Linked DNA regions of Homo sapiens. The protein of the gene in region 3 purifies or fractionates together with the protein of the main gene of each other region. This does not show direct contact. Each region holds a gene or a part of one and is shown on either strand. Other genes may lie near its edges.

Evidence for each region.
Region 1: the proteins of CUTC (region 3) and PRRC1 fractionate together in Homo sapiens (co-fractionation; one large-scale study listed by BioGRID). This does not show direct contact.
Region 2: the proteins of CUTC (region 3) and SLC35C1 purify together in Homo sapiens (affinity purification with mass spectrometry; one large-scale study listed by BioGRID and IntAct). This does not show direct contact.

What each region holds. Positions count from the first base shown.
Region 1 is NC_000005.10:127,516,281-127,520,580, reverse strand, and holds the start of PRRC1 (protein PRRC1), read right to left. Parts: upstream 2,942-4,300; 5' UTR 2,805-2,941; intron 1-2,804. UniProt on the Homo sapiens protein: May act as a regulator of the protein kinase A (PKA) activity during embryonic development.
Region 2 is NC_000011.10:45,810,833-45,813,668, forward strand, and holds the end of SLC35C1 (GDP-fucose transporter 1), read left to right. Parts: coding exon 1-503; 3' UTR 504-2,184; downstream 2,185-2,836. UniProt on the Homo sapiens protein: Antiporter specific for GDP-l-fucose and depending on the concomitant reverse transport of GMP. Involved in GDP-fucose import from the cytoplasm into the Golgi lumen.
Region 3 is NC_000010.11:99,738,615-99,742,266, reverse strand, and holds part of CUTC (copper homeostasis protein cutC homolog), read right to left. Parts: intron 2,558-3,652; coding exon 2,498-2,557; intron 1-2,497. UniProt on the Homo sapiens protein: May play a role in copper homeostasis. Can bind one Cu(1+) per subunit.

The DNA.
Region 1 (4,300 bases), on a different chromosome or scaffold from region 3:
TCATACAGCATATAACCTTTTGAAGTTGGCTTTTTTTCATTCAACATAATGTTCTTGAGATTCATCCAAGCTGCTGCATATATCAAATTGGTTCCTTTTTATTGCTGAATAGTATTCCATTGTATAAATGTACCTGCTGAAGGACATTTAGGCTGATTCCAGTTATTAGCAATTCATATTTATTTTTTGAAAAGATCTGAACAAAGTATGCAGCCTGGGCCACTGGGCAGACAGAGCAGATGCAGACAGGCCATTAAGGAAGATATAGAAGTAGTTCCATCAGAAGTAAGTAACAACCTAGACTAATGATTTTCATAGTGGGAAGGGCTGATTATGCCCCCAAGGGGTCACTTGGCAATGTCCAAGACATTTTTTATTGTCACTACTAGAGGGCTACTACTGGCATATAGCATGAAGAGGTTAGGAATACTACTAAAAATCCTCCAATGCACAGCCTACACACAAGAATTAAGTGGCCCCAAATTTCAATAGTGCCAAAGTTGAAAAACTCTGACCTAGACTCAAGTGATGATAGTGGAGATGGAGAAAAGTAAATAAGTTCAAGACAAGATTAGGTGGCAAAATTCAGTGACTGGGTATGGAGGAAGGGAAAGGAGGCATGACTTGCACAACTAGATAGATGGTGGTGCCATGCACAAAGATAGGAAACACTGCAGAAGGCCAATGTGTTTGATGTTCTTTCTGGGGGAGTCGGATGGGGGAAATCATAAAATGTTTAGTCTTTGACATGCTGTTTAAGTTCCTTGAAACAAACATCTAAGTAGAGACACTGACTTGGTCTGGAGCTTAGCAACCACATAAATGTGGGTGTCATCAGTGTACTGATAGTCTAACGTCATGTTTTGAGATGAGATTACGTAAGAGAATACCAAGAGAAAAGAGAATATGATGTTAAACCAATTATTGGTTTAGTAAGATGGAAGACAAGTTTGCAGAGAATAAGAGATGAGCTAAAAGAAAGGAAGAAAACCAGGAGACTGTGGTGTCCAAAAGCCAGAGTTTCGCAGTATGAATGGGCAACAGTATTAATGCTGCAGAGAAGCCAAATAGGATACTATCTGAGAAGTTCAATGGATCTGCCAAACTGGAGATGAATTTAGGGAGAACGGTTTTCATATAAAGAGTGGAGAAAGATTCCAGTGTAAACTGAATCGAGCAGTGGCAGGTGAGACTAACACGCATGACACTTTCAAAAAGTTTGGCTGTGAACGTAGGAAAGATCTATGGCACTAAGCAGAGAACAGGGATCCGGGGAGGCTGAATCCTTTCATTCAGTACCTATACATCGAAGGTAAATAACCTGAGATAGAAATGCCCCTTTGGAGATTTTACCACTCCTCAACCAAAGCTCCCTCTTTTCTTCATTTAATTTTTTATTGGTCATTCACCCTCTACTACAGATGCTCCCCAATCCTTACAATGACTAGTAGAAGTCCTATTGTAAGAGAATCCCTAACATTAACAAATGTGTCTGCAAAAGAAACTGTACAATGAATACAAAGTCATTAAGTGGAATAAATAATCAATTTCTTTGTCTTTAATGGCTTTTTATATGAAAACTGCCGTAATGGCAATACTGAGGTAAATTTTACATGCATAAACATAGTGCCTTCTACTAAAAAAACCTATTATGATAAAACAATACTGAAGTGTCAGAGTTGGTAACTGTTTTAGGGCTCAAGTCTTGTCACGAAAAGTACTATTCATATATCAACACTAAAGAAAAAGTGAAGAAAATGGTTTGGAAAACTGAGTTCTCAGTCCGGCTAGACCCTGTTGTTCCAATTTGCTTGTGCCTTGGTTTTTCTGTTAAAAAAAAAAAAAAAAAGTGGATGTCTATTTACAAGTTTACAAGAAATGGAAGAGTGAAGCTCTGATAAACTTTAAAGCATTAAGAGCAATTATTGCTGACCTACTCGTGCCACAAGATTGTCTCTACTACCAAACAGTGAGCGCTAGTTAGAGCCTAATCTGACCCCGAAATAAAATTTTATAAATTTTCACTGAATTAAACACTGGCTGCACAGGAGAAAGACTGAATGCCAAGATGTGTCACGATCGCAGAAATGCACATGTTGTCTCTCAAAATAACTACTTCGAATGACAAAAACACTATTGGCTATAAATTCTGTCAATCTAGGAAACGTGCTATCTGCAAATTTGCCTGAAGCAGGTCCCAAGACCAAACAAAGAAACGAGAGAATGCAAAAACTCTCCCAAGCGGCGCTAAGCACCGATGGGGTAACCTCAGGGAAAATAAGCTTCCTTTCATTGCAGGTCCTGGTGTGATGACTCTCGAGCCTCCTGGGCCTCTCCAGGGCCAGAGCGGCCGAAATCCTGTTTCAGGAGACAGCGGCTTCCCCTCAGGCTCTGCCACGTCTCCAGGCCAGACAGGGCCGGGCTAAGGTCCGCCGGCGCTCCCGCCAGTCTCCCCTAAAGTCAGCGCCCTGGAAGGTGGGGCCAGAGCGCTCCTGCCTTGGTCCTTGGACAGGAGCAAAGTGTCGCGGGGCGAGACCCTCGAACCGCGCCCACCGTGCCATCCCCAGCGGAAACTGCTCACCTTGCGATGTGCACTCCTGCCTGCTGCACCCCGCACGCCGCCACAGCTGAGCCTGGACCACGGGACTAGGGGGCTCGCAAACGACATCGGCGTCCAGTGGCGCCGGCCGGCCCGCCCACCTTCCAGGGACACCGTCCCTCGGGGTCTGGCTCTGGCGCCTGCAAGCCATGCCATGCCATGCCACCCCCCTCATACACGCCCCTCGGAGCCACCTGGCGCTCACCTGGGGACCGGGAAAGTGCCTGCGTGGTCGCTGAAGAGTGTGGTATGATAGGGAGGTCGGGACGTAGAACTACAGCTTGGAGAAGACAACGAAGGCGCACCCTGGAAGTTACCTCGGCGTGTCCCCGCCTACAAGATGGCCACGGGCGGCGCATGCTCCTGCGGCTGCCACGTCGGCCGCGCGCCGCACCGCGCCGCGCGTCGCCGCCCCGCCCCGCTCCGCCCCGCATCGCATCGCCCCGCTCCGCCTCCGCATCGCCCCGCCCCCCCTGTCCCATGCGCTGTGAACCCGGCCGGGACGCTGCAAGTTAAACTTTGGAGCCAAGATCTTCCTAACTACCGAGACTTGGTTCTGCCCACACCCTCTAGAAACATCTTCCAAAGGGCTGGCCTCCTTTCTACTTCGCAGCCCCCTTACACGAGAGTGGCACTCTTGTTACCAGGCGTAGCTCACTCATCCTGTGCCACAGCGGCCCAAGGGATAAGATCAGTTAGCCAAGGTCATCTGGTTGGCGGTCATCTAGCCAACATCAGCTAGTCCAGTCAGCACCTCCAGGAAGGACCTCGCGGCAGATACAGGGGACTTAGCCTGTATAGTCAAAGATTTCCAGATAACAGTGATTATATCAGGAGAGAGGGATTAGGAGAAGAGGGAGAGGGGAGAAGAGTAGCAGTTACTGTACTGAATTTTTCCCCAAGTGCATGTATTGCACATTCTTTTTTTAATTGTAAAATAGACAGATTATCAACTTTCTTATTATATGCTGCACCTAACACAGTACCTGAAATAGTTGGTGTTCAATAATGTACATTAAATAAATTAATGGAGTGCGATAGAGGAAAATAAGGAACTTCAAATCAGAAGTCTTGATTTGAGTCTGAGACTACTCTAATGCCAGTTGTACAGTTGCCTGCCCTTGTACAGGTCACTTAGTCTCCATAAGTCTTCATATTTCTACCTGCAAACTGAGAATAATACTATCCACCATCCCTAAATCAGGCAGGTGACAGACTCAAATAAAATAGAGCATATGAAAATTTTTTAAACTTTTTGTCTTTTTGAGATGGTGTCTTGCCCTGTTGCCCAGGCTGGAGTGCAATGGCGCCATCTCGGCTCACTGCAACCTCTGCCTCCCGGGTTCAAACGATTCTCCTGCCTCAGCCTCCCGAGTAGCTGGGATTACAGGCACAGGCCACCACACCCAGCTAATTTTTGTACTTTTAGTAGAGACAGGGTTTCACCATTTTGGCCAGGCTGGTCTCGAACTCCTGACCTCGGCCCGCCTCGGCCTCCTAAAGTGCTGGGATTACAGGCGTGAGCCACCGCACCTGTCCGAAAACATTTTTTAAATTGCTTAGCATTAAATATATAAAAAATTGTTTTTGTTGTTCTCAATTTTTTTTCAGGAACTCACTTAGAGATTTCACATTAATCTATCTCTTGAGCTTCACAGTTGTAAGCATTCCAAAATACCTCACTGAAAAGTTAATACTATG
Region 2 (2,836 bases), on a different chromosome or scaffold from region 3:
GCACCGTCTTCGGCGTGCTGGCTAGCCTCTGTGTCTCGCTCAACGCCATCTACACCACGAAGGTGCTCCCGGCGGTGGACGGCAGCATCTGGCGCCTGACTTTCTACAACAACGTCAACGCCTGCATCCTCTTCCTGCCCCTGCTCCTGCTGCTCGGGGAGCTTCAGGCCCTGCGTGACTTTGCCCAGCTGGGCAGTGCCCACTTCTGGGGGATGATGACGCTGGGCGGCCTGTTTGGCTTTGCCATCGGCTACGTGACAGGACTGCAGATCAAGTTCACCAGTCCGCTGACCCACAATGTGTCGGGCACGGCCAAGGCCTGTGCCCAGACAGTGCTGGCCGTGCTCTACTACGAGGAGACCAAGAGCTTCCTCTGGTGGACGAGCAACATGATGGTGCTGGGCGGCTCCTCCGCCTACACCTGGGTCAGGGGCTGGGAGATGAAGAAGACTCCGGAGGAGCCCAGCCCCAAAGACAGCGAGAAGAGCGCCATGGGGGTGTGAGCACCACAGGCACCCTGGATGGCCCGGCCCCGGGGCCCGTACACAGGCGGGGCCAGCACAGTAGTGAAGGCGGTCTCCTGGACCCCAGAAGCGTGCTGTGGTGTGGACTGGGTGCTACTTATAGACCCAATCAGAATACGGTGGTTGAGAAGGAACCAGTGTTTACAAGTAATATCAGAAAGTTGAAGGAACCAGTGTTTACAAGTAATACCAGAAAGTTGCCAAACCCTTCTCTATCCTCTCGTATTTCTGAGTTTTTGTCCTTCCCGAGGGAGCACCCTAGTGAGAGTTGAACCCCTTCCTTCTGCCTCCAGGGCCTGTCTGCCTCCACATCACTCTGAGGACAGGGACAGGCAACAACCTTGAAGGGACAGCAATGGCAAAGCCACAAAGGCTTCACTGTACTCAGGGGAGATGGCCCTACCACAGCCACCTGGAGAGGGTTGGGAAGCCTTCCGTCTGCGGTGGGCAGGCAGCCTCACCCTGGGCCCACAGACCGGCCTTCCTTTGGAGGAAAGTGTGGCCTGGACTGAGGGAGGAAATGAGCGAGTTCCCTCTGACACCAGCAGATCCCCAGGGGCTGCTGGGCAGTGGCCTGGGAATGGGGTGGATTGTGAGAAAGTGCTCACCATCTATACACCCTGTATGTCCAGCTTTTGAACACAAGGGAACCATGCTTCTCTTAGAGGTTAAGCAGGGTCATTAACATCCTCCCCCAGTCCCTAACATCACATTGTCCTGCGTGGCTCCTCTGGCCCTGAGTGGCACCTGTCCCTCTGGTCTCCCAGCACCTGGCCCAGGTAACAGCCTTCTGAAAGCAGAGCCAAGGAGCTGCTTCTCTCTTCTCCCAGTTCTACCTCCCCAGAAGCCTTCCTCCCCAGGTGGGGCTGATGGAGCAAGGGTCCAGACTAGGAGCCTTCCACCCCAGCTGTGTCTGGCGCCCCTAGATCTCTGCAAGGGAGGTGTTACAGCTGGTTCTGAGCCGCTTGCCTTGTGATGGTAAGACACCAACCTTTACATTCTTCCCTGAGGTTGTGGCTGACAGAGCCTGCTTGGCCCCACTGTTAGTCCAGCGAGCTCCTATATCAAAATGCCGTAGGCCGGGTGGCTTACAAACAACAGAAACGTATTGCTCACAGTCCTGGGGGGCTGGGACGCCCAAGATCAAGAGGCCAGCAGATTCGGACTCCGCTGAGGGCTGTTTCCCGATCCATAGATGGTGCCTTCTCGCTGTATCCTCAATGGTAGAAGCACAAACAAGCAAGCTCCTTCCTGCCTCTTTTATAAGGACTCCAACCCTGTTCATGAGGGTTCCGCCCCCATGACCCAATCAGCTCCAAAGGCCCCACCTCCTAATACTGTCACCTTGGGGGTGAGAATTCCAATGTGAATTTGCAGGGGGAGTGGGGGACACACACAAATTTCGGGGCCATACCACCCTTCACCACACCCTCCTGCGCTCAGGGTGGCTTGCAGTCCCTGGCCCTTCTGGTGGGCATTTGGTATGTCCTTTCTCTTGGGGTGATTTCTGATGTTTTTACTCTATATAGTGAAAAGCTAGGGAGAGCGGGTCTTCTCCCCCCTCCCTCTCCAGTCCCCTCACAATCCCAGATGGGTTCTAATGCAGCTGCTGGGGCCTGATGCCCTGAGTTGTTTGTGATTCAATAAAGAATCCATAAGATCCTGTGTGTGTGGCCTGAGGGAAGAGGCAGCAGGGCTGGAGAGGATTTGTGAACAGGGCCTGGGGGTGGAGGGGAGGTTGGGACCTGTCAGAGGCAGCAGGGCTGAAGAAGGTTTGTGAACAGGGCCCTGGGGTGGAGGGGAGCTGGGGATCTGTCAGGAAGGAGGGCTCATCCCTGCCTTCACCAAGCCCACCCACCAGCAGGCAGCCTTTCTAGGAGCTGGTTCTTTCTAAGGATACCAGGCTCCTTCCTGGAAGGTAGGTGACCAGACTTGAAGTTTCCTATTAGTCGTAATTGCCATTTACTGGATGCTTGTTGGGGGCCATAGGCTGTGCTGAGTGTTGTACATCCACCCTTGTGAAGTTGAGAAGTTGTGAAGTTCATCTTCACAACTCCCCGTGGCCCCTTAGGTGGGAGCCGTCACTGATCTGTTTTTTTTACACATGAGGACACTGAGGCTCAGAGAGGGCCCCAGGAAGGAAGAGGCAGGAGGAGGATTCAGAGTTCTGTGCCTTCAGAGCTTGGTACTTAACTCTACCCCAGCATTCTGAGTCCAATACCCAGCACTGTTTTTTGTTTTTTTTTTTTAACAGAGTCTTGCTGTGTCACTCAGGGCTGGAGTGCAATGGCGCGGTCTTGGCCCACTGCAAC
Region 3 (3,652 bases):
CCAAGACAGGGTAACAGTGACTGGATTTACCCTCCCACCTATAATAATAATAATAATAAAAAAACAGACAAAATATATGAAACAGTGGTTTGCAAGACACTGGACATTAAGCAGTGAAGGGCAATGATCCTTGAAAATGGTAAACAATGAAGTTAGTAAGTCAATTCTGATTGACCCAATTTACTGCCTTGAGAGTTTCTAGGCCAAAGCACAGGGATGGGGGACCCACATGGAGCCAAAACAATTCCCTGAGTTAAGGAGACAAAGCTTAGAGTTCAGGAAGACTGAAGTAGCTAGAGTTTATAGGAGACAGTACAGGGAGGACAGAAAGATAACACTGGAGTAGCAAAGACTATCTCAATGGTTTAAAAAAAGGATTTTTTTTAAAAAAGATAGGCTTGGTACGGTGGCTCATGCCTGTAATCCCAGTGCTTTGGGAGGCTGAGATGGGTGGATTGCCTGAGGCAAGGAGTTCAAGACCAGTCTGGGTAAAATGGTGAGACTCCATCTCTACCAAACAAACAAACAAACAAATGTAGCTGGACATGGTGGCATATGCCTGTAATCCTAGCTACTTGAGAGGCTGAGGCAGGACAATTGCTTGAGCCCAGGAGTTTGAGGCTGTAGGGAGCTATGGTCACACCACTTCAGTCAAGCCTGGACAACAGGTGAGACCCTGTCAAAAGAAAAAAAGGAAGGAAGGAAAGCAAAGAGAGAGAAAAGGAGAAGGAAAGAAAAGAAAGGAAAGGAAGGAATGAAAGAAGAAAGGAAGACAGATAACTCTGGAGGTCTGCAGAGAACCTCCTTTAATATTCAGCTGAGTACTGACCGGTGCATGCATGCAAAGAAACTACGCAAGGCCTGGGACAGAACCAATAAAAAGGATTAGAAATAATGTGCCTGTCATTCATACCAAGCTGTGAATAATGCCTATTCCACCAGCCAGACAGGAAAATTTCAAAATTCATGGTCACAGGGTAGAGTTCACAGAAGAATCCTGACTCAGTAGTAAGGAATAATTAGCTCTGTATTAACCACTGCTCCAGACTTGCCCAGCAAATCTTAAAAGCAAGACCCAAAAGGACCAAACTGTTTTGGAACATTTGTAGGAATTCAAAAATGTCTAGTAACCAATAAAGTAAAATTCACAATGTCTTGCATCCAATAAAAAATTACAAGGCAGGAAAATAAGATATATTATTAGATGATAAATCAAATGAAACAAACCCAGAACTGATATAGATGTTAGAATTCGCAGACAAGGTCATTATAACAGCTATCATAACTTTATTCCACATGTTCAAAAAAGTTAAGAGACATCAGAGACATAAAAAGACTCAAATTTCTACAGATGAAGACTACAATGTATGAGATGAAAACATACCAGGAGAGACTAATAGCAGATTAGATAGTGCAGAAGAAAAGGTCAGTAAGCTCAAGGACAAAACAATAGCAACTATGCAAAATGAAAACACAGAAAGGAGATTTTCTTTTAAATAGAGAAGTTCATCAGTGACTTTTGGGACAATTTCAAGTAGTCTAATGTAAGAATAGCTTAAGTCTCTAAAGGAGGGAGTGGAGAACAAGCTGCAAGCTGAAAATTTTCCAAATGTGATGAGAAGTATAAATGCACAGGTCCAAGAAACATGAAAAAACTATACTCAGGTACACCATAAGAAAATTGTTCAAAACCAATAATAAAAAAATCTTAAAAGTAGGTAGAAAAAAGAGACATATTACATAGAGAAAAACAAAGATATGGATGATAGCTTTTTGTCAGAAACAATACAAGCAAGACGACAATGGAAAAACATCTTCAAAGAAAAAAAAAACCTGTCAACCTAGAATTCTATACCCAGCAAAAATACCTTTCAAAAATGAAGGAAAAAGCTATTTTAGACATATAAAAGCTGAAGGAATGAATCACTAGCATACTTTTTAACAAAAAAAGTTAAAGAAAGTACTTCAGGCAGAATGAAAATGAAACCAGACAGAAATACGGGATCTACACAAAGGAATAAAGAACACCAGAAATGGTAGTTGCATGTGGGTAAATATATGATTTTTTTCTTATTATTTAAATCTCTTATTTAACAAAAGATAATTGACTCTTCAAACAAAACTAACAATACAGCATGGAGTTTTTGATATATGTATGAGTAAAATATATGACAACAATAGCACAAAGACCAGGAGGGGATTTCAATATACTAAGGATGCCAGCATGGAAAGATTTTATAAAAGCCTAATCCTTGATGTTACTACAGAGCAGCTGAACCGGTATTAACAATTACCTACCTACCTTTCAACTTTTTGATGTGAGAAAGAAATATGTTTGATCAAATCTTTGATTTTTTTACAATCATAAACATTTCTGATACAACATCCATAACATAGTTAACATGACATTAGTAAAGGACCCCAACGAAACTGATTATCAGTTGCTTCCAGGCTCTATGAACTCCAATCAGAAAACCTGGGAAAAATGGACACTTACCCATGCTGGGTGTAGTTCCCCCCTCTGATAAACCAGAACATAATTCAATCCGATCAGCACCTGTAATATAAAAGCATTGCTCAACACATTTTTAAAAAATAAGCTGTTATTAAACAGCAACCTGTTTATATATATTTTTTCCAAATATAGAACAGTCTTAGAAATCATCTCAGAGAAATCAAATTATAAAGCTAGAGTAAAACTCTGTTTTTAACTCAGCTATACTCTGCAGCCCACATTGTGTTACTCATACTCAAATTTAAAAATTAATTAAAGTTAAGCTAGTTCTCTTAAATTTTTGTATTATAGGGTTGCCTCTCTATGTACAGGAAAGTAACATAGAATAAAGATGTTTCTTAAAACTGACTATAGTGGAATACTGAGTCTTTGTTGATAAGAAAATAACATAATATTTCCCAAAAGGGTCTTTATTATTCTAAGCTTTAAAAAACACAAAGCTACTTTTGAGTAGCTAAACCAAGATAATTTCAAGAATAAGAAAATGCTGAAACCAAAAGAATTATTAGGCTACCAAGGTCACATCAAAAGATCTCAGGAACCAGTTTGAAGAAGCTCTCACTAGCCAAAGATAGAACATTTTGTTCATCAATAAGCAGAATAACTACAATGGATTAAAACACACAAAATATATCTAAATCTACATTCATAATGACAAAACAATTCAAGGGAAGACAGAGAACAAATTCATTATTCTAAAAAGTATTATAATAAATAAGGGAAAATAAGCAAGCATTTATTCTGCCTTTCTTATACAAACCATACTTCAGCATAACCAAACAGAGGATGAGGGAAAGTTCTTTACAGAACTATTCTAGTTCATAAGTGAAAAATAAATGTCACCATTTTGCAACCCCTACTAAAATATGGGTTGCTAAATTTATTAGGTGAAAAGCTGACAGAAAACCTTAAGGATAGATTAGGCTGGCAATACCTGAACTCCCTGTTCAATCTTAATATCACAAAAACAGAAAAAAACCAACATGTTATGTCCTCCTGATGTGATGCAACAGGAAGTATATAATGTTATCTATAAATAAATTTTGTCAAAACTGAAATCTGAATCTGATTAGGCCTCTGGGCTAACTACCTTTATAGGAAATACAGTGGTCAGAGGACTATGTTAAACGATATCAC